Regions from separate parts of the Homo sapiens genome. Here regions 2, 3 and 4 are each linked to region 1. Evidence: fine-mapped expression QTL. A gene starts in region 1. Each other region holds a variant in brackets. All regions are shown on one strand. Distances are between the middles of the regions.

Region 1 (5,616 bases):
GAAATTAGCGGCCGGGTGTGGTGGCTCATGCCTATAATCCTAGCACTTTGGGAGGCTGAGGCAGGCAGATTGCAAGGTCAGGAGTTCGAGACCAGCCTGGTCAACATGGTGAAGCCCCATCTCTACTAAAATTACAAAAATTAGTCAGGCGTGGTGGCAGGTGCCTATAATCCCAGCTACTCAGGAGGCTGAAGCAGGAGAATCGCTTGAACCTGGGAGGCAGAGATTGCAGTGAGCCAAGATTGCCTCACCGCACTCCAGCCTGGGCGACAGAGCAAGGTTCCATCTAAAAAAAAAATATATATATATATATATACACACACACATTTGAAAAAAAAGAAGTTAGCCAGGTAATGAAGTTTGCTGTTATGGTCTGAATTTTGTCCCCCTAAAATTCACGTGTTTGTTGAAGCCCCGACCCCTCACACCTCAGAATGTGACTATATTTGGAGACAGGGCCTTTAAAGAGGTGATTAAGATAAAATGAGGCTGTTAGGATGGGCCCTAGTCTAATCTGACTAGTGTCCTTATAAAAAGAGGAGATTGAACACACAAAGAGACAGGTGAGAGGTGCACACCCAGAAGAAAGGCCATGTGGGGGCACAGCCAGAAGGTGGCCGTCTGCAAACCAAGGATAGAGGCCCTCAAAGAAGCCAAACCTGCTGACAACTTCACCTTGGACTTCCAGCCTCCAGAGCTGCCAGATAAAACATTTCCGTTTTTCGAGCCACCTGATCTGGCATTTTTTAATAGCAGCTCAGCTAATCTAATACAGTTGGAAAAGGTGTTTGAAGGTCAAGGGACCGGCCTGAGGGAAGATCTCGAGGCATGAAACAGCATATTCATACCAAAAAGTCAGCATTTCTAGATCAAGAAGCAATCTGAAAAGTTTCTCTATAAAGGGCCAGGTCATATTTTAGATATTTGGGGCTGTAAAATCCTGGTTGCAGGAAAGCAGTCGTAGATAATATCTAAACAAATGAGGGTAGCTGTGTTTGAATAAAACTTTATTTACAAAAACAGAAGGCAGCCCAGATCTGGCCCATGGGTTGTAGTTATCCGACCCCTGTGGAAGAAGGATGTGGGGACTGTGGGAGATGGGCCAGGAGCAGGGTGAGGAATATCTCAGGAGGAAAACCCAGGCCTGAACCCAGGCTCTCCTTCAGCTCTGACCATTGTCTCTTCATGCGCACCTGAATGAAATATTCAAGCACGTCATTCCTTTCAAGCATCCCTTCCTGGGGTAGGCGAGGAGGTTGGTGTGTATACAGAGGGTCCTGTATTCCTGGCTCAGTTCTTGTCTCTACCTCCAGCAGCCTGACCTCTCTGCGTCTCTATTTTCTCATCTGAAAAATGGGAGTATTACTGAACAAAAGGGTTCTGCGCTTGCTCTGCTAGAAGCCAATCTTGATCAGGTGCAGAGGTTCATGCCTGTAATTCCAGCACTTTGGGAGACTGAGGTGGGTGGATCACCTGATGTTAGGATTTCAAAACCAGCCTGGTCAACATGGCAAAACCCCGTCTCTACTAAAAATACAAAAATTAGGTGGGCGTGGTGGTAGGTGCCTGTTAACCTTAGCTACTCGGGAGGCTGAGGCAGGAGAATCGCTTGAACCTGGGAGGTGGTGGTTGCAGTGAGCTGAGATCACACCACTGCACTCCAGCTAGGGCAATAGAATAAGACTCTGTCTCCAAAAAAAAAAAAAAAAAAAAAAAAAAAAAAAGCCAATCTTACTGCATTAAGTTTTTGAGACAAAAGCTTTTTTTGTCCGTATTGTGAGTTGATCAATAAGGAGACAGGAGCCTGGCTCAAATCTGTCTCTCTGTGTTGACTTTGAGGCACTATTTTTTATTAGAAAAGGTTTAGGAGGTGGACTTTAGGATTAGCAGGTGATAGGTGGAGGAAAGGGGAGGCCTGGAATGTCTCAGACATCTCTGTCTCACAAGAATTGATGTGAGCATTAAGTGAGGTGACCTAGGTAAAGTTGCCTAGGGCCTGGCACACAGGTGGTCAATAAATGTCTGTTCCCACACTCATCAATGTCTGCTCCGACCTCCATCGCGAATATGGGGTCATGACTACGGAAATCATACCACGATAGCTGTCCACAAAAAGGTTCACTCCCGAGGCCCACATTCTGCATATTGATATTCCGAACCACCTGAATCTCCCAGGTCTAGCCCACATTCCTCAAAGGGAAAACCCCAGCCAAAGTGCCGAGGTCACGAGCTGCTTTTTAAACAAGTCCCCAGGGAGAGCAGTTGGGGCCAGAGCCCCAGAGCTGACCTGGTCATTTTTTTGCATAATTGTAAGCAGGAATGCCATGACCTGATTTGTCTTTTAAAACTCTGGGTGGGAGACAGATGGTAGGGGAGAGGAAATTCCTCCCTTGTTCCTTTTCGATGTCTTAGAAGATGTTTATTAATTGGGGGCACAGCTCTACCCTCCCCTACACCCACTCACTGGGCTACTAGAAGGTGCTGTCTCGAAATAGCCCACCCAACCGCAGGAGCCCAGAGCCCACAAGCAGCTCAGGGACTTAGAACTGGTCCCACCCTTCCTCCGGGGACCCCCCCTCCTTAAGCTGCAGTCTGTGGGTGGGCTGCAAGTCCCGCCTCTCCACAACCAGCCCCACCCCTTTCTTCAAAACCCCGCCTCTCCGGTGAGGCCCCGCCCCCTCGAGGCTGCATCCCCGTCCATTGGGCGGCCGGCAGGAGGCGCCAGAGCACAGCCCGCCTTTTCTAGCAGGTTGGCCCCGCCCCTCTCCTGGAGACCCCGCCTCCTCGAGGCTTTCTTTCTGCCTATTGGGCGCCGAGGCCCAGCTCCAGCCCACCTGTTCTCCCCCGCCCCACCCTTTGTGGCCCCGTCCCCTTGAGGCCCCGCCCCGCCCGTTGCGCCGCCGGCAGGAGGCGCCGCGGCACGCGCGGGTCTGGGCGCCGGCCCCAGCCAACGGCGGGTGGGAGCAGCGCGGGAACGTGGCGGCGCGGCGGGTTGTGCCGGAGGTGAGTGTGGGGTGCGCGAGGAGTGACTGCGGAACCGGGGGTGGCTCGTAAGGGGCGCTGCTCGGCCGCTGCCGGGGACCTGGGGCGCGGAGGCCGCGGGGCGCGCTCGGGGACACTCCCGGCCGCTGGTCGGGGCGCGGAGGGCAGGTTTGCCCAGTTGCCATGGGAACCGACTGGCTGTCGGGCCCCGGCCTGGACCGGGGGGCGGTACCCGGAGGCCGGCTAGCGCGGGCAAGGGCGGCCCAGCCTGCGGGGATCCGGGGGTCCGCGCTGCCGACCCCCGAGAGCTCCTGAGCCTGGCTGTCCGCGTGGGCCCCGGACCCCCAACTCCAGGGGACTCTCGGCCCTCAGTTTTCCCGGCTGTGCCCTGGAGGGGGAGCTTCGTCCGGGGCGCGCAGCGGGGGAGCGGGGCGCAGCGGGGGAGCGGGGCGCAGGGTTCCGCGCGCTCTCCCACCTGGGCCGGCGAGACGTCCCCTGCACATACCCCGTCCCGGTTGCAGCCCGATCCCCACTCGTGCGCCAGCTCAAAGCATTGTTTCCCGGCTATTTATGTACCATTTCCAGCCCCTCGACAAATACTGCATCCAAGATAACAGATGCTGAGCCGAGCTCCTGGGGCCTCGCAGGAGGAGCCTGTTGGTGGGGTTGGCAGGGCCCTGGCGGGGCTGCGGACCATCCTGCCCTGCCCTGTCGCCTGTCAAGTGTTTGGCTAATCTGAATTGCACAGAAGAATCTGATTGCTCGTGTCCCGCGGTTAATATAGGCCACCTCTTGTGCATTCCAGACAGGAACCAGTCTTGAAAGTCCCTTTTGCTGGGGGGCAAGTCGGTCTCCTCTCCAGCAGCTAGCAGGTCAGAATTAAATCTGATTGAATTATGTTTGCATTTGAAAGCGTGGCTCGGGCTGGGGCTGTAAAGATAGGATTCATGGAAGGAGGGGAGAGAGCTGAGTGTGTAAAGTCTGCGCTTCGTTTTCCCTCCTGCTGGAAATGATAATGGGTTCCACATTGTCCTGTTGGAGCAGAGAGGTCGCTCCACCCATGTCGTCAGCGCAGCACTGACCTCACTCCCTGTACTCGCCGCTGGGACTTGAGCTTGTTTTTCATCAGAAACTGGACCCTTCCTTGAGAACAAGAGAAAACATTCTCTAAGAGCAGCACCAGCCAGCGCCCCACACCCTCGCTGTCCGAGCCCTGCGCTTTCCCCAAGTATTTGTGTCACAGAGGAGCGAATGGGGCAGAAGAGGCCGGTCGCACTTCCAGAAAAACAGATCTTGTTACCCAGGGCGTGCTCCGCCCGGTCGGATTTTCCTGCACTCCCCTTGGCCTTTTAAAAAACGAGTCCATCCCATTCTCACAAACAGGCCAGGCTCCGCCTTCTGGGATTCGGAAGCGGGCAGCGTGTGAACAAGTGGGCACCCTCTGGTCTGGCCAAGGGAGGATGACCAAACGGAGAGAAATGCTTTCTGAAAATCCCAAAACAGATAAGGTTTGTGTAACAGGGACTTCTGGGGGCTTAAGAAGGAGTTATTGGAAAGGAGTCAATCATATTCTCTCTGCTTACATTTTCTCCTGTTTCATGATACTGCTAACTCTGCCTCTGCCTTCGAATCCGGCTCCGGAAACTGTGGGAAAAGCAGGGGTGGGGGGAAGTGGGGGGAACAACATTTCTGAAGTTCAAGCTTCTAAGACCCTGGGAGGAGACCTAGCAGTTGTGTGTTTGTAATTTTCTATTTGTTTTTTATTAAAGAAGAATTATGTAAATGTCAGACCTTACAAAACATATATCCACCCCTGGGCCCCAAATATCAACTCACTTTTCCATTGTATTTGGGGGCCTTTTTATAATTTTTGTCTTTTTTTTTTTTTTTGAGACGGAGTCTCACTCTGTTGCCCAGGCTGGAGTGCAGTGGCGTGATCTCGGCTTGCTGCAACCTCTGCCTCTGGGGTTCAAGCGATTCTCCTGCCTCAGCCTGCCAAGTAGCTGGGGTTACAGGCACCCGCCACCATGCCCAGCTAATTTTTGTATTTTTAGTGGAGACAGGGTTTCACCATGTTGGCCAGGCTGGTCTTGAACTCCTGACCTCAAGTGATCTGCCCGCCTCGGCCTCCCAAAGAGCTGGGATTACAGGCATGAACCACCATGCCCAGCCAATTTTTGTCTTTTTTTTTTTTTTTTTTTTGAGAGGGAGTCTCACTCTGTCGCCCAGGCTGGAGTGCAGTGGCATGATCTTGGCTCACTGCAAGCTCCGCCTCCCGGGTTCACGCCATTCTCCTGCCTCAGCCTCCCGAGTAGCTGGGACTACAGGTGCCCACCACCACGCCTGGCTAATTTTTTGTATTTTTAGTAGAAAAAGGGTTTCATAGTGTTAGCCAGGATGGTCTCGATCTGCTGACCTCGTGATCTGCCCGCCTCAGCCTCCCAAAGTGCTGGGATTACAAGCGTGAGCCACCGTGCCCAGCCATCTTTTTTTTTTTTTTTTTTTTTTTTTTTTTAACAGAGAGGGTCTCACTCCATTGCCCAGGCTGGAGTGACGTGGCGCAATCATAGCTCACTGTAGCCTGGAACTCCTGGGCTCCGGTGATCCTCCTGCCTCAGCCTCCCGAGTAGCTGG
Region 2 (5,616 bases), 65 kb after region 1:
GTGGCGTGGCGGTCTGGCTTCTGGAGGATCCGGGTAGGGAGTGGTGCATTCAGAGCTGCTCCAGGCTGCGTCTCTGAGCTTCGAGGGAGGCGCAGGCCCGGTGTGCAGGGACAGGAGCTCCCACAGGCTCAGTCTACCAGACGCTGCGGGGTCTCTGTGTACTCAGCTGTGTCCCCATCCCTGGGAGGGGGCTGTGGCTGTGGCTGCATCTGAGACAGCCCGGAGGACACAAGGCCAGGCGAGGTACTGGCCAGGCTGTGTTGGGGGCGCTGGGACCCTGCTGTGCCCCCCCATGCCTTAGGGGCAGGTTTCCTGAGAGGAGGGGCTCTCCGTGGTGAGAGGGAGGTGGCGGGGCATCTGCACAGTGACCCTGTGGTGGGACAGGCTCCCACAATGCGTCGGGGCCCAGTCCTCAGCCTCCGGGCGGGGGCCGGGCTGCAGAGACCAGGCTGGACTGAGGGCGCGTGGAACAGGCCGGGCTGGCCCTGGCCATGAGGTTGTGGGGTGGGGCCCCCGCTCCTGGGGGAGGCAGAGCCGGCCAGGATCTGTCCGAGTTCCTTCCTGCCGGCCACGGTTCCTTCCCACTGTTTCCTTCTCCCCTCCTTCACAGGGAAGGGGATGTGGGGATCTGCCAGGGTCTCCCCAGTCCTGGGAATCGGGGCTGCCTTCAATATGTGGGGGTAGTGTCAACCCCTCCTGGCCTTGGTGGGCATCCGGGCATCTGGCCTGTGCCCTTGCCCCCCACGTGATGGGGCAGCCCCTGCCTGTCCATGGGGCCTGGGCCTAGGGTAGACCTTTCCTCTGGCTTTTTCCTGGAAAGTGACGTAAACGACTGTGGGTCCCTAAGTCTCCACGCAAGGTTCCCACCTCCAGCTGCCCAGCTACAGGCCTCCCCTGGGGCTCCTGGGCTCCCGGGACTACAGCGCCCGTCGCCTCTCCCTGCAGACCTGACTCTGCCATCCTCCAGGGCTGGATTTGCAGCCGGCAGGTGGCCCTGGGATGGAGGCAACTCCGGAGTTGCGGCCGGCCAAGGGTGACCCTCACTGACCTTGCAGTGCACTTGGTCCTTCCGTGTGACAGGGGGACGGGGCCAGCTTAGGAGCCCCTTTTGTTCCGGCCCCCACAGGAAGAGTCAGCTCAGGGACCTGTGATTTTTCGGCTCTGTGTTCCTGGAGAGTCCCCGGCTGACTTTCCACGTGGCTTCGTGGCTGCCTGGGTTTGGTGGCCGCAGGCAGCTGGGTCCCATGTGGTCCCCGTGCTGGCTGCTCTTCATGGGAAAAATTGCTCTGGGCTGTTGGAGCTGCTGCCTTTGGTCTTGGGAGGAAGTTATTTTTGGTCAGGGGCCTGAGCAGTGTTTGGCCCGGCGATGGGAGCCAGGGCCCAGGGATGCCTGCAGGCTCCGGGTGTCGAGGGCCAGGCAGGCACCAGGGAACAGAGTGGGAAATAGCCCCTAGAAGGGGCCGGAGGGGCAGAGCCCCGTCAGCCTCCCGACCCTCTGCAGGAAATGTCTGTGGGAAGAATTCGGAGAGCAGGGCTGTCGCGTCCCGAGGGTGGGTCACGTGGCTGTTGTCATTCCGCAAACACTGTTTTGTACAAAGCTCTGACCCAGGCCCCTCCCGCGCCGCCTCACACCATCGTGTGCGCCTCAGATTCTCCTCGTGGCTGGAGCTCAGCGCCTTCTTCTTTAGGGATAGGGCCAGCTTCCTCAGGGGTCCTGGAGTTTCGGGGCAGGGCAGGGGCAGCCGGCTGGTGTGTCCTCTTAATGGCTCGTGGGCGTCGGAAATCCTCAGAAATGCCCACCAGCCCTGGTACCACAGGGAGAGGCGTCTCCGGGGGTTTAGAAATGGAGTCTCAGGGCTGGGCTCACACCTGTCCTCCCCGCACTTTGGGAGGCCGAGGCAGGCAGATCACATGAGGTCAGGAGTTTGAGACCAGCCTGGCCAACATGGTGAAACCCCGTCTCTACTAAAAATACAAAAATTAGCCAGGCATGGTGGCATGTGCCTGTAGTCCTAGCTACTTGGGAGGCTGAGGCAGGAGAATCGCTTGAACCTGGAAAGCTGAGGCTGCAGTGAGCTGGGATTGTGTCATTGCACTCCAGCCTGGGCGACAGAGTGAGACTCTGTCTTTAAAAAAAAAAAAAAAAGAGAGAGAGAGAGAGAGAAATGGAGTCTCAGGGCCGGGTGCAGGGGTGCATGCCTGTAATCCCAGCACTTTGGGGGGCCAAGGCGGGTAGATTGGAGTTCCAGACCAGCCTGGGCAACATAGTGAGATCCCATCTCTACCAAAAATTAAATAAAAGAAGAAATGGAGTCTCAGGCCCGTGGTGGGTGGCTGGAGGCTGCTTTGTGGTTTCATTCAGCACAGTCCCTGCCACCTTCTCCTGTCATTCCCATGCCCCGTTTCCCTCTTCCCACCAGTGCCCCGCCCCTGCCCAGGGAGTGATGTGGGGCTGGGTTCTCAGACCTGGCAGCCTGAGGCAGCCAGGGTCAGGGCACCAGGACAGGTGGACGGGACAGAGCTCAGCCTCCTGACCCGCCTGCCGTGGCTGTGAATATCCTTTGCCGGCACTCGCTGTGGGCGCCGTCGGGCCACCTTGTGTGTCTCCACAGGCCTGGAGGCTTCTGGGCACAGTGTTGAGGTTGGCAGAGCCCGAGAGCCCCTTACTGCCCCGGACCCCGGGGTCCCTCCAGCTGCCCTGCCTGGTTCCCAGATGTGACCCTGTGGGGCAGGCACTGGGGGGCTTCACAGGTTCTTGGGGAGCGGGCTTGGTGGGTGGGGGCCAGGCAGCCCCAAGCCCCTGAAGGAGGAGCACCAGGAGCGGCAGAGCGAAAGTGACAGGGGCTTGTCCAAGGGCTTGGCGCACCATTGTCCTGGCCATGAGTGGGCCGGCCTCCGGTGCAGTCTGCCCGGCAGAGGGGCAGCTGGGGGCCTGTGCTCCTGGGAGGCCCGCGCTGGGGTGAGTGTTGGCCTGGCTCACCAGGCGCCGCCCATGCAGCCCTGGCAGGCGGCCTGGACAGGCAGCCCCCACGATGCGGCCCCTCTGCCCCTCCTGGAAGAAGGCCCCACAGGAGGGAGAGGAGGGGAGCTGTGGCCGCCCACGCGGCTGACAGGGAACACCACTGTGGTTGGCCGCCCACAGTCCCAGGAGAGAATGAAGGCGCCCAAAGGCGGAACACCCAGGGTCCTGGCCCCTTCCCCAGGTGCTGATGGGACCCTCAGTCACTGAGACCACCACATGCTCCCTCACTTTCTGGAAGCCCCCGGGGAA[G/A]GCTCCACCCTGTTGGGGGCCTCCCACCTTCACAAGAGCCCCCACCCAGACGGCAGGAACCACTCCGTGGGCAGCTCCCCCCAGCCTCAGCTCCAGCCGCCCCGGCTGACACCCGGGGGTGGGGGTGAAATAGCTGATTTGGGCTTTTTCTTCCCAAAAGACTTATGATTCCACAGAGTGGCGGCCACTCAGGGGCTGCTGCCAGAGTCCTGTGACCCGTGTCGCGAGTGAGAGGTGACCTGTGGGGAGGCAGTTAGGACCTGCTATGTTGGGTGCAGTTGGTTGTAACAGAAAACGTATCCAGAACGTGGGAGTGAATGAGCGCTTGGGCTGGGCTGGGCTGGGCATTGAGATGTTGGGTGTCTGGACCCCTCCTGCCCCTCCCGGCATTCCCCTCCCCAGGTAAGAGTGGCGGCAGGTTTGCTGCGCTCGTCCCAGCCAGGGCCCAGAGTCCCTCGGCCAGTTTATCGCATCTGGACCCCAGATGGGCGCGTTGGGTGGTGCCCGCGCCAGGGAAAGAGCTGGCGGCTGGCTGAGTTGCTGCGTTCCTGAGCGCTGTGCCCGTTGTGACCATTGGCGTGGCTGTCTCCCGGCAGGCTCGAAGGAATCGCTGTTCTCCTGCACGCTGACGGCCAGCGAGGAGGCCATGGCGGTGCTGGAGGAGGTGGTGCTGTACGCCTTCCAGCAGTGCGTCTACTATGTCTCCAAGGTGCACGGACGGGCTCTGCTTCTGCACTCAGGCAGCTCCTGGGATCAAGTGGGGCTCAAGCTTGTGCCTGTGGCTCTCCTAAGGAGCCTTCTGGGGGGCTGAGGGAGGGGACCGTGACAAGCTCCACTTCATCAGGGAGCAGTGGCTGCAGGTTCTGCACAGGCCCAGCTGCACCCCCCACACCCGCTCCTCCTCAGGTCGCACAGAAGCCCTAGAACCATCCCAGCTCCCTTTCCCTCGCCTTGAAACGCCCCCTTCCTGCCAGTATTTCGAGGGTCAGGGATGAGGTGGGGGAGGCCCCAGCATGGGGCGCAAGGGACATGGCCCTGTTGTCACCCTGGACCCACGGGTGCCAGAGGTGCTGCCGCCGGTCCCCCTGTGGCCCTGGCCAGCTTGGGGTGCATCGGGGGTGCGGTGAGCCACTTTCTGGGGGAGTGGTGACTCTCCCGTCATTTTGTTGGAGCCCCTTTGTTGGAGCCCATCCCCCCAGGCGCCACCTCTGTGCGCCTTCTGAGTTCATCTGTGCCTCCGACAGCAGATCCCCCTGAGCCCCCTGCACCCCACCTCTGCTCCCAGCAGCCCCAGGAGGCAGCTCCTGTGTCCCCACATCCCACACTGGACATTTGCAAAGCCATGGCCTGTCCAGCAGGAAGCTACCGAGGCCGGGTCCCTGCAAGCAGTGCGTGGGTGGGGAGCTCGCTGGGTCAGGCCCCCCGTTCGGCCGCCAGCGCTCCTGGAAATGCTGGTTGCTGTTCTCCTCTTGCCCCCGCCAGTCCCTGTACATCTGCCTCCCGGCACTCCTGGAGTGCCCGCCATTCCAGACGGAGCGCCGTGAGAGCTGGTCCTCGGCCCCCGAACTGCCCGAGGAGCTGCGCCGCGTGGTGTCTGTGTACCAGGCAGCCCTGGACCTCCTGCGGCAGCTGCAGGTGCACCCCGAGGTGGCCTCGCAGATGCTCGCCTACCTCTTCTTCTTCTCCGGGACACTGCTTCTCAACCAGCTCCTCGACAGGGGTGAGGGCCTCGTGCAGGGTTGAGGGGTCGGGGGCTCACATTCCTGGACATGACGGCTGCTGGCGCCTCCCTCGCCAGCTCCTGGAGGCGGCTCTGCCCTTTTTGGCCTCCTGCTCCCTGAGCGTCTGGTGTCCCTGAGGGGTGAGAGGCCAGAGTGAGGGGGGACAGATCAGCACAGCGCATCCCGTAGGAGCCAGGGTCCCATCGGGGTTTCAGAGAAGCCACGGCCGAGAGGTCTGCATGGGACCCCTTCCCCGTGACAGGGAGGGAACGGGCTCAGGGCATCATTGGACTGTCCCAGAACTGCCCGGTGGACATGTCAGGGCCAGGATGGAACCCAGGTCTGTGCAGCCGCGGACTCTGGCCTTGGACCCTGCCTTGTGGAGTGACTTCCCCCATCACCTGCAGGGCTCAGGAGCACTGGCCACTCCCAGCCAGGGCCACTGTGGGGCGTGGGGAGACCCAGGTGGGGGCAGGCCCCCGGCACATGTGTCTGGGAGTGGGAGAGGGTCCCAGCTAGGGGCTGCACTGTGGAGTCAGCGGCAGTCACAGCCCACCCTGCCCTGCTACGTTCACCTCCCACCGTACCCCCGCTCCAGAGAGGGGTTCAAGGCTGGTCAGTTGC
Region 3 (5,000 bases), 95 kb after region 1:
GGTCCCTCCGTCAGCTGCAGATGCTCCCCTCCCAGGACAGGGGTCTGTGTGGAGGGGCCAGGCCTGAAGCGCCCAGCAGAGTGGCTTTAGCTCAGCAGGGCCCACCCAGGACCTGCGCTGCTGCGACCATTTCACAACACCTGGATGGGAAGACCTCAGAAGCCACCTCTCTTCCCCAGGAGCCAGAAGGCTTCGCTCCCTCCCTGACCAGGCACCTGGGGATCAGATCTTGGCTCCGGGAGGCCAGCTTCGTCAGCGTGGTCATCAGCACGGTGACCACCTGGGGGGGACACCTGGGCAGGGCAGCAGAGGGGCGGCACTGGGTGACCTCGAATAGCAGAGCCTCCAGGGCTTCGAAGAACTTGTTGATCTGCTCCACGGTGCACCTCCGATCGTAGGTCACCGACAGGTACTCGCCGATGGCCCACACCTAGGCCCGGGGACAGAGATTCAGCCCCCACCCAGGCCTCCTGGGTCAGGAGCGGCTGTGGGAGGCCAGCGCCCGCCTTACCACGCTGGTGACGAGGCTCGCCCTGCTGCAGAGACCATTCACGCTGCCCAGGAACTCCAGCAGGTCTCTTGCCAGCTCCACCACCAGGGAGGGTTTCAGCGTACACAGGGCCAGGAACTGAGAACTCAGCACACTGCCCAGAAAGCCGGGTCTACGCCTGCTCTGTGCAGACCTATGACCCCATCCCCATCCAGGCCAAGGGCCTGGAGAAACCCGGGAAGCGTCTGAGTGGTAGGTGTATGCTGCACCCTCCGATAGAGGAACACAGAAGACTGCCAGCCTCAGAGAAACTGTTCTCACTGGGGAGAAGGCTGGCACCAGCGCTGGCCTCAGGCCCAGGCTCAGAGTGGAACCAGGATGGGCCTGCATGCATCAGGCCTTTGGAGAGAAGGACCCCAGGGGACAAGACGGGGAAGAGGGACCTGAGCTAACCCTGAAGAGGACAGGCTCGGCAGAAAGAAGGACGGGAATGTTCTTGAGAAGCAGAGAGAAGTGCCTGGGGCTGGGTGTGGGGCTGTGGGTGGGGGTGGCAGGGTCTGAGGCTGCTGAGGGCCCAGCTAGGGGTGGTGCCGAAGCCACTGAAGGGGAGGGGGGAGGGGAGAGGGGGAGGAGTCCAGGAGGCACCCGCCCAGGGCTGTGGCAGGAGCGCAGGAGGGACCTACCTGTGCACACCGGCAGCGTACCCTGGGGCCGGGTAGAGCGAGTCGCTCCTGCCCAGGAGCAGCAGCGCCAGCTGGTTGATCAGGGACCCGTCAGCCACCTGGGGGTCAGGAGTGGGAAACAGGCTCAGCCCCACCCCCACTGCAGGCCCTAAGGTTGGGGGTGAAGCCATGGTGAGGGCTGGGGGGCAGGTGAGGGGCTGGAGACTCCTCGTCCACTGCCTTCCCCAACACCCAGGGACACAGAGACTCAGCTGGCAGCATCCGGGCACAGGGAGGGAAGCCCTGGGCTGGCCCAAGTGCCCCCGGCAGAGGTGTCGCTTCTGTTCCACGGCTCCTCTGCCAACTCCCGCTCTGCAAGGCCAGGCACACGTCTTGTTTGGCCAAGGGTGCGCCCAAGCAACGCCCAGCCCCCTGCCGGCCTCCCCACCTCCCAGGCTCTCCTGCACTGGCTTGTAGAGCTCCCCGAGGTGGGAAGCAGCAATGGGGGAGATGGGGGGCACCAGCCTGTGGGAGCCTTTATTTTGGCCTCAGATGGGGATGCTGAATTATCAGGGGCAGCAGGGGGACAAACTGCTCCGGCCCCAGCTGTGTGGCCAGAGCCCAGGCCACTCACTTGCCCTGTCCTGGGGACGGAAGACAGGGCCTGCTGGGGCAGTTGGATGGAGCCTGCTGGGATGGGAGACAGGACCTGCCGGGATGAAGGGGATGGGACGGGGATTGGGGGACGTGGCCTGCCGGGATGAAGGGGATGGGACGGGGACTGGGGAACGGGGCCTGCTGGAATAAAGGGGATGGGACAAGGGACGGGGCCTGCCGGGGCTGTGGCATGTGCCTCCCTGACCCTCACAGGGACCGTGGATGGTGGGTGTGGCGGGAGCAGCCTTCTGCAGAGCTCAAGAGGGCCCCCCAGTGCTGGCTCTGGCCTGCCCCTCAGTTGTGAGGCCTGTGGGAATGGGGGGCCCCAGGCAGCGAGCTCACCTGGGTCACTGCTGAGAAGAATGCCTGCAGCAGCGTGGGCACGGCCTGGGCACACTGGGCCACGCGGGCACAGCCGGCCATGGGCTGCAGCAGCTGGTGGAGTGGCGCCAACCTGAGGACACAGTGTGGCCGTGAGTGCTGCCCGCTCCCCGACCTGGTGACTGCAGGCCGGGGCCACGTCGCCACTGCTCCCTCTCGCACAGCTGAGCCCGCTCCCATCCTCACTCATCGCCTCTCGGGACCTCCTGCTCCCCTGGGTTTGGGGAGACCCCTGGCGTCAGCACACCCGGGACAGTAAAGCCATCGGGACAAAGGCTGGCGTGGGCTGAGGGCAGGAGGCCTGTGGCCGGTCCCAGGCCTCCTGCTTCCTGGGCTCAGGCTCGGTTTGTCCATCTGCAAAATGGAGCACCCACAGGGCCAACCTCCAAGCTTATGAGGGTTGATGTGGGCAGCAGAGAGAGCTGAGACCAGGCCCCGCCCCCGGCAGACCCGTGGTGCAGAAGCA[G/A]GGCCTCTATAATGGTGATGACGGGGACGCAGCCTTGTGTGGGACACAAAGCACCCTGGCCTCAGCCTAGGGCTGAGCAGTGAGCCCCACCCCAGTGGCTGTGGCCGGGCTCTCTGAGCCACTGGTGGCCCCCTGGCCCTAGGGCCCCGTACCTCTCAGTGGCGCCACTGGCCTTGGGGCGCAGCAGGTATTGGAAAAGACCCTGGAACTGCGGGTCCCGGAAGGCCTCCAGGCAGCTGGGGGCCCTGAGAGAGGTGTCCCAGAGTGGCCTCTCGGATGCAGCCGGTGCTGACCTGCGTGGACAGACGCCCAAGGCCAGGCTGGGATGCGGCCCCTGCACTCAAGGGCACCCCCGTCAGGGAGACACACGGCAGGTGTCCCTAATATCACAGCACCTCGGGTGCCAGGAAGGGCTTGGCATGGGAGGCTCCAGGCCTGGGCGTGAAGACGGGTGAGGCACTCCAGGGTGCAGGGGCTGCCCTTGGCAAGTGGCCAAGGGTGACAGACACACCCTGTCCTAGAGGTGGCTTTGCAGGGGAGGACTGGTCAGGTGTTGGGGGGGGAAGAAGGAGGGTCCCCGGTGTAGGGGTCAGGAGCAGCGAGGAGGGGGCCCAGTGTGTGGAACCAGCTGGCTGGGAGACGCAGCGCTGGCAGAGGGTGAGGGGCCCACCTGAGCTGCAGGTCCAGCACCGCCGTCAAGCAGGGCAGGTCCAGCAGCGCGTGCAGCATCTCCAGGGCTGTGCCAGCGTCCACCAGGGCCGGGAGGAGCGCCACAAACTCGGAGGTGAGGGGTGGGCTGTTCCAGGCCAGGAACTGTGGGCACAGCACAGCGGTTCGGACACGGCTCGGAGCTGTGGAGCAGGCGGCAGAGGGAGGAGCCAGCTAGGGCCCCACAGCTGTCCCAGACCTGCAGTCCCCAGGAGGGCTTCTACCTTTGCCTCCTCCCGCTTTTTATTTTTTTGAGACAGGGTCTTGCTCTGTCGCCCAGGCTGGAGTGCAGTGGTGCAATCATAGCTCACTGCAACCTCAACCTCCCAGGCTCAAGTGATCCTCCCACCTCAGCCTCCTGAGCAGCTGAGACTACAGGCACACACCACCATGTGAGGCTGTTTACTTTTTGTAGACAAGAGGTCTCCCTGTGTTGCCCAGGCTGGTCTTGAACTCCTGGCCTCAAGATCCTCCTGCCTTGGCCTCCCGAGGTGCTGGGATTACAGGTGTGAGCCACTGCCCCCAGCCTGTATCTACTTTCGTACCAACAGGTCAATAATTTTCCACTGTCCTGGTTTTTCTCCAGAAAGAGGATTCCCCACCTCAGTTGAAAAGACCTTACAGCGAGGCGAGGCTGCAAAAGACACTTCAAAAGCAAATGGCACCAGGCCGGGTGCGGTGGCTCATGCCTGTAATCCCAGCACTTTGGGAGGTCAAGGCAGGAGGATCATCTGAGGTCAGGAGTTCGAGACCAGCCTGGCCAACATGTCGAAACCCCATCTCTACTAAAAATACCAAAAATTAGCTGGACATGGTGGTGGGTGCCTGTAATCTCAACTACTCAGGTGGCTGACGCAGGAGAATCGCTTGAACCCAGGAGGCGGGGGTTGCAGTGAGCTGAGATTGCGCCACTGCACTCCAGCCTAGGTGACAGGAATGAGACTCCATCTCAAAAGAAAAAAAAAAGGCAAATGGCACCCAAGTGCCCAAGGCACCAGGCAGGGCTCCCGGGGGAGGGATCCTACCAGGCAGCAGCCCTGCCCCAGTGCTGTGAGAACAAACTCACCGTCTTGTGTCACAGCCCCCTCTCCAAAACACCCACAAGGGAGTTCTTGGACAGCACCGTCAATCACGTGACGCTGCAGGGACACCCCAGATCCCCACCTCACCCTGCACACCGCATTCCAGGCCCGGGACTCACAGGGCTCTATGCTCAGCCAGGACTCGCCCTGAACCCCGCTGGAAAGAGGGGAGGAGCCCCAGGGACTTACCATGCCCCTGCCCTGGCACCCAGGGATGCCCAAATATACCTTAAAGAGGTTGGGGAAGCTCAATCTGAGGGTGCTGAGGTGCCCGCTGAACAGGTGGAGGTTGTCCCTGCAGAACTGGATGAATTCAAAGGCCAGCATGGGGCTGTGGAACTGCTCCACCGGGATCCTGGTGAACAGGTGCTGGTAGACGGCTTCCGAGTCCACTGCAGCCGCTTCCCCTGCAAGACCAGGGCCCGCCAGGGCACACGTCTTGACCTCGCCCTGGCCGTGCTTCTGTGACTGGTTAGGGGCCCTGAGTCTCAGGCCTGCTCTCCAGGACACCAAGGGCTCCGAGGCGTCCTACGCTGGGACGCTGGGGAAGCGGC
Region 4 (5,616 bases), 79 kb after region 1:
GGCAAACCAGAGGCTTTCTTGAAGGGTGTGTAAGGGGTGAGGGTGGTGGGGGCCGGTGGTGTTGGAGGACGTCGTTCTGTGCCCTCACCCCTCCTGCACGACGCCCGAGACACCGATTATCCTTCAGCGTGGACATCTGGTAGCCACAGCCCAGGCCCCTGGATATGGGCAGAAAAACACATGGGAGAGAAACAGAGCGAGGAGGCAAAGGTGAGAACAGAGGGGACCCAGCAGCGAGGCCACATCCAAACAGTGGGAGTCCAGAAAGAGCCAGCAGAGGGGTGGAGGGCGCGGGGAAGGCAGGTGCAGGCAGTCTCCAGAGCCACGCATTGAGGTGGAGGAGCTGCTGCCAAGAGTGGGCTTACAGCAAAACTCAGCATCCCAGGGCTGCAGGACGATGGGTGCAGAGAACCCACAGGCTTCCAGACAAGAATCAGTACAAGGCAGACCCTGAAGATTTGCACTCAGGTTGCTTTGGACGAGCAGCACGGGAGTCACAGGACAAAACAGCACCTGCAGAATCCGAAGGGTGACGCCCTCCCGCCTGGAGTTCTGTGCCAGCCAGATGACCAGTCCAGGGTGGAGGTGAAGACAGTTCCAGCACGCAGGGCAGTGGGTTTCCTGCAATGCGCCCCTTTTGGGAAGCTACTAGAAGATCTATTCCATAGAAACAGGACAAACCAGAGAGCTGAAGAAATGAATTGCAGAAAATAAGAACCGGCTGGGAGCCGGGGAAAGGAACCCCAGAAGGATGATGATGGAGGTCCTGGCGGGCCGCAGAGGCTGTTTAATTTTATTGGAGGGATCCACCCTTCCTTACGGTGTAGGCTTTTTGTCTTGCCTAAAACGTTTTCCTGGGCCGGAGCCAGTGGCTCATACCTGCAATCCCAACACTTTGGGAGGCTGAGGCGGGAGGATTGCTTGAGGCCAGGAATTTGAGACCAGCCGTGGAGTTTGAGACCAGGAGTTTGAGACCAACATAGTGAGAACTCCATCTCTACAAAAAAAAACAAAAACAAAAAACTAATGAGCTGGACATAATGGTGCAAGCCTGTGGTCCCAGCTACTCAGGAGGCTGAGGTGGGAGGATCGCTTGATCCTGGGAGGTCGAGGCTGCGGTGAGCTGTGATTGAGCCACTGCACCCCAACCTGCGTGACAGCATGAGACTCTGTCTCAAAAAACAAGCAAACAAACAAATGTTTTCCCTGCCTCCTGTCACCTAAATGATGAATGTCCCTGCCTTCCAGGCAGGTTTTTAGCCGACTTGATTGATTTCTTTCACACCGTTGGAGGCAGGAATCTGATTTCACTGTTCATTTCCCAGTAGTGGTTTCTCTGGTTGGCGGCCGCCTGTGAGGCCGGCCCTTGCTTGAGACGGGGGTGGGTTCCCTGGGCAGGGGGTTCCCGATGGCACTGGCCGGCCTCTCCCTGGAGCAGCTGCCCTTGGAAGTGCCAGGGGTGAACTGCTGCTGTGACACCGTCCCCCTCACAGATGGCCCCTGGTGGGAGTGAGGACCACAGGGCCCCTCAGCTGGCTACCCCCAGGCCACCTGTGGAGGCCATCCCTCTTTGGGCTGGGGTCTGCACCCAGAGACCTGTGACCATGAGCTCCTTCTTGTCACCCAGATGAGCTGGACAGCCCTGCGGGCTGCGTTCCCCGCACTGAGCCCAGCACAGCTGCACCGGCTGCTGACTCACTACCAGCTGGCCTCGGCCATGGGCCCCATGAGCACCTGGGAGCCAGGGGCCCAGGACAGCCCCGAGGCCTTCAGGTCAGGTAAGCCCTGCCCCAGGGCAGGAGAGGGCTGGGGACTCAGTGGGAGACTCGCCCCGAGGCTGGAGGCAGCATGCTCTCATCCCAACTGAAGTGGGGTGTGGGGGACCTCTCTCCTGGGGACCTCCCTGGAGGAGCCTCCACCCAGAGGACCCCCCCGCCCCGCCCCATCCCCAACCTGGGGATCCGGGGACCTCCTCGGCGGGGGAGTCAAGGAGCCGAGAGTCCATGCCCAAGTTCCAAACTCCAGGCTCAGGTCCAAGGCCCCCTCGTTCCCTCACGGAGCCGGAGGATGGGGCCTCCCCTGTTGTATGGCTACCCAGGAAGGGAGCAATGGTGGTACACAGCCGTGGGGACGCATCCCTGAGCCATGTATGTGCACACGCACACACACATGTCCATACGGAGGGGTCTGTGTGCGCATACATGTGTACGTGCATACATAGGGGTGCGTTTTATTTTATTTTTATTTTTGAGACAAGAGTCTTGCTCTGTCATCCAGGCTGGAGTGCAGTGGTGCAATCTCAGCTCACTGCAACCTCCACCTCCCAGGTTCAAGCGATTCTCCTACCTCAGCCTCCCTAGTAGCTGGGATTACAGGTGTCCGCCACCACGCCCAACTAATTTTTGAATCTTTAGTAGAGACGGGTTTCACCATCTTAGCCAGGCTGGTCTCGAACTCCTGACCTAGGTGATTCGCCCACCTCAGCCTCCCAAAGTGCTGGGATTACAGACATGAGCCACCGTGCCTGGCCGAGGGTGCCTTTTATTGATTGATTGACTGAGACAGAGTCTCACTCTGTCACCAGGCTGGAGTGCAGTGGCTCGATCTTGGCTCACTGGAACCTCCACCTCCTGGGTTCAAGCGATTCTCCTGCCTCAGTCTCCCAAGTAGCTGGGATTACAGGTGTGTGCCACCATGCCTGGCTAATTTTTGTATTTTTGGTAGAGACGGGGTTTCACCATGTTGGCCAGGCTGCTCTCGAATTCCTGACCTCAGGCGATCTGCCTGCTCCTGCCTCCCAAAGTGCTGGGATTACAGGCGTGAGCCGCCACCCCCGGCCAGGGGTGCATTATAATGTGTAGATTATACACACATCTCCCTTCATCTGCATTATGTGTTAACACCTCAACAAAACAGAGTACGGGATGGCGGGAGGCGCAGAGGCGATGGGGCCTTGGATGCCCCCCCGCAGCCCCGGGTCACCGTGGAGAACATCTCTGAACAGGAACCCTGGCTCCACCTGACACCTTCTAAGTCCTTCCTCCGCATTGATTCATTTCTGTGGCCTGAATTCTGTGCTGGGAGCTAGGAGCTCAGTATGCACGCACTCTTCCGCCGCCTGAAAGG[T/C]GCTCCTGTTCCTGGGGGCAGAGAGCAGCCCGCACACAGGCCGTTTGGGTCCCGTGATTCCTGCAGGGAGGCAGTCGGCTCCAGCCCTGGGAGGAGCTTGCGTCCAGCTCTGCCGGGCTGGGGGAGCTCCAGTTACCCGGAGACACCATCAGAGACCAGTGGGGCAGAGACAGGCCCAGTGCAGAGCGGCTCAGTGGGGCTGGAGGGTTCCTGGCTACAAGGCCTTGTTCTCAGTCCTGAACTGCTCGGATGTCACACCGGGTGGTCGGCGGGAATTCAGAAGGGATGAGTCCTAGGGTGGGGCCAGTCACTGTGGCCAGGATCCCAGCCTCCTGTGTCCACAGGGCAGGGGACTCAGGGCTCAATCTGCTGGCCCCTGGGTTCCCACACCGTTGGGCGGGGCGGCCTGGCGAGGGAGGCAGCTTCTCCTGTGGCCATTACGGGCATCCTCTCTCCCCTGCAGAGGATGTTCTGGAGTCCTACGAAAACCCCCCACCCATCGTCCTGCCCAGCGACGGCTTCCAGGTGGACTTGGAAGCCAACTGCCTGGACGACAGCATCTACCAGCACCTGCTCTACGTCCGCCACTTTCTGTGGGGTCTGCGGAGCAGAGCCAGCCCCGGCAGCCCTGGCAGGCCTGGCAGTGGGGCCTCCCAGCCAGTGTGCCCCGAGGTACCCGGGGAGGGGGCCCCCCAGCCAGCGTGCCCCGAGGTGCCCGGGGAGGGGACCCAGCCAGCGTGCCCCGAGGTGCCCGGGGAGGGGGCCACCCAGCCAGCGTGCCCCGAGGTGCCCGGGGAGGGGGCCCAGCCAGTGTGCCCCGAGGTGCCCGGGGAGGGGGCCACCCAGCCAGCGTGCCCCGAGGTGCCCGGGGAGGGGACCCAGCCAGCGTGCCCTGAGGTGCCCGGGGAGGGGGCCACCCAGCCAGCGTGCCCCGAGGTGCCCGGGGAGGGGGCCCCCCAGCCAGCGTGCCCTGAGGTGCCCGGGGAGGGGGCCCAGCCAGTGTGCCCCGAGGTACCCGGGGAGGGGGCCCCCCAGCCAGCGTGCCCCGAGGTGCCCGGGGAGGGGACCCAGCCAGAGTGCCCCGAGGTACCCGGGGAGGGGGCCCCCCAGCCAGCGTGCCCCGAGGTGCCCGGGGAGGGGACCCAGCCAGCGTGCCCCGAGGTACCCGGGGAGGGGGCCCCCCAGCCAGCGTGCCCTGAGGTGCCCGGGGAGGGGGCCCAGCCAGAGTGCCCCGAGGTACCCGGGGAGGGGGCCCCCCAGCCAGCGTGCCCCGAGGTGCCCGGGGAGGGGACCCAGCCAGCATTCCCCGAGGTGCCCGGGGAGGGGGCCCCCCAGCCAGAGTGCCCCGAGGTGCCCGGGGAGGGGGTCCAGCCAGCATTCCCCGAGGTGCCCGGGGAGGGGGTCCAGCCAGCATGACCCGAGGTGTCTGGGGAGGGGGCCCCCCAGCCAGCGTGCCCCGAGGTGCCCGGGGAGGGGGCCCAGCCAGCGTGCCCCGAGGTGCCTGGGGAGGGGACCCAGCCAGCGTGCCCCGAGGTACCCGGGGAGGGGGCCCCCCAGCCAGAGTGCCCCGAGGTGCCCGGGGAGGGGGTCCAGCCAGCATGCCCCGAGGTACCCGGGGAGGGGGCCCCCCAGCTAGAGTGCCCCGAGGTGCCCGGGGAGGGGGTCCAGCCAGCATTCCCTGAGGTGCCCAGAGAGGGGGTCCATCCAGCATGCCCCGAGGTACCTGGGGAGGGGGCCCCCCAGCCAGCGTGCCCCGAGGTGCCCGGGGAGGGGGCCCAGCCAGCGTGCCCCGAGGTGCCCGGGGAGGGGGCCCAGCCAGCGTGCCCCGAGGTACCCGGGGAGGGGGCCCCCCAGCCAGCGTGCCCCGAGGTACCCGGGGAGGGGGCCCAGCCAGCATGCCCCGAGGTACCTGGGGAGGGGGCCCCCCAGCCAGCGTGCCCCGAGGTGCCCGGGAGGACAGGAGAAGGGTTGGAAGCTGGGCTGGGGGCAGCAGGCGGGAGCTCTGGGAACCCCGGGAGTCCTGGCCCAGCGCAGGCTGTGCTCCGGATGGCGGGGAAGCCCCTTTGCCTCTTGCGCGTCTCAAGCTGCACAGGCTGCGGGAGTCCTTTGCTGACCTCTGCCCCGCGGCCTGGCGGCCCTTCTGCTGCAGGCTGCCCAGTTGCCCGAGTGCTGTGTCCACCTGGCCACTCCTCTACCTGAGCTGTCACCCTTCCTCTCCCTAGGGTATGCACCACGTGGTCCTTGACGGGCACCTGGAGGCCCCGAGCTGCCCCCTGGCTCCCAGGGACCCTGGCCCAGCAGCCCGGGAAGTGGCCCCGGAGCGTACTCTTCCCTTGAGGGGGGCTCCCTGGGCACAGGCCCCCCCTGGAAGGCAACCCAGCCGTGGGGGCTCCCAGGCTGGCCCCCCGCACACGGACTCGTCCTGCTTGCTCACGCCTCCCAGCACTCCACTTGGCCCTGAGCCTGGGGACCCCGACTGGCCAGAGTCCG

Which allele goes with the higher level. Positions count from the first base shown, and alleles are read on the strand shown. Sizes are in standard deviations (SD) of each study's normalised expression. Not every link is listed here.
With allele A in place of G in region 3, the expression in prefrontal cortex of the gene that starts at base 2,883 in region 1 is higher (large effect, 0.84 SD a copy in GTEx).

What was found. PIP is the estimated chance that this variant, and not a neighbour inherited with it, causes the effect.
Region 2: its variant is the best candidate, but not a certain one, in a credible set for the expression of RADIL in left ventricle (GTEx, PIP 0.55).
Region 3: its variant is the best candidate, but not a certain one, in a credible set for the expression of RADIL in prefrontal cortex (GTEx, PIP 0.69).
Region 4: its variant is the best candidate, but not a certain one, in a credible set for the expression of RADIL in sun-exposed skin (GTEx, PIP 0.75).

What each region holds. Positions count from the first base shown.
Region 1 is chr7:4,880,983-4,886,598 of GRCh38, reverse strand. RADIL (Rap associating with DIL domain) reads left to right here and starts at 2,883. Exons shown (of 15, transcript NM_018059.5): 1 at 2,883-3,003. RefSeq lists a silencer at 2,852-3,071 and enhancers at 2,781-3,468, 3,469-4,157, 3,887-4,181.
Region 2 is chr7:4,815,603-4,821,218 of GRCh38, reverse strand. RADIL (Rap associating with DIL domain) reads left to right here. Exons shown (of 15, transcript NM_018059.5): 7 at 3,868-3,980; 8 at 4,754-4,991. Among named protein-coding and RNA genes, the nearest start is that of SNORD165, 19 kb to the left of the region's middle. The variant G/A (reference allele first, on the strand shown) is at 3,272.
Region 3 is chr7:4,786,103-4,791,102 of GRCh38, reverse strand. It overlaps AP5Z1 (adaptor related protein complex 5 subunit zeta 1), which reads right to left. Exons shown (of 17, transcript NM_014855.3): 10 at 4,675-4,853; 11 at 3,327-3,469; 12 at 2,809-2,949; 13 at 2,152-2,263; 14 at 1,174-1,271; 15 at 512-644; 16 at 216-430. It overlaps MIR4656 (microRNA 4656), which reads left to right and starts at 2,464; the gene lies at 2,464-2,538. The variant G/A (reference allele first, on the strand shown) is at 2,657.
Region 4 is chr7:4,801,728-4,807,343 of GRCh38, reverse strand. RADIL (Rap associating with DIL domain) reads left to right here. Exons shown (of 15, transcript NM_018059.5): 10 at 1,628-1,778; 11 at 3,590-3,798; 12 at 5,349-5,616. Among named protein-coding and RNA genes, the nearest start is that of MIR4656, 16 kb to the right of the region's middle. The variant T/C (reference allele first, on the strand shown) is at 3,127.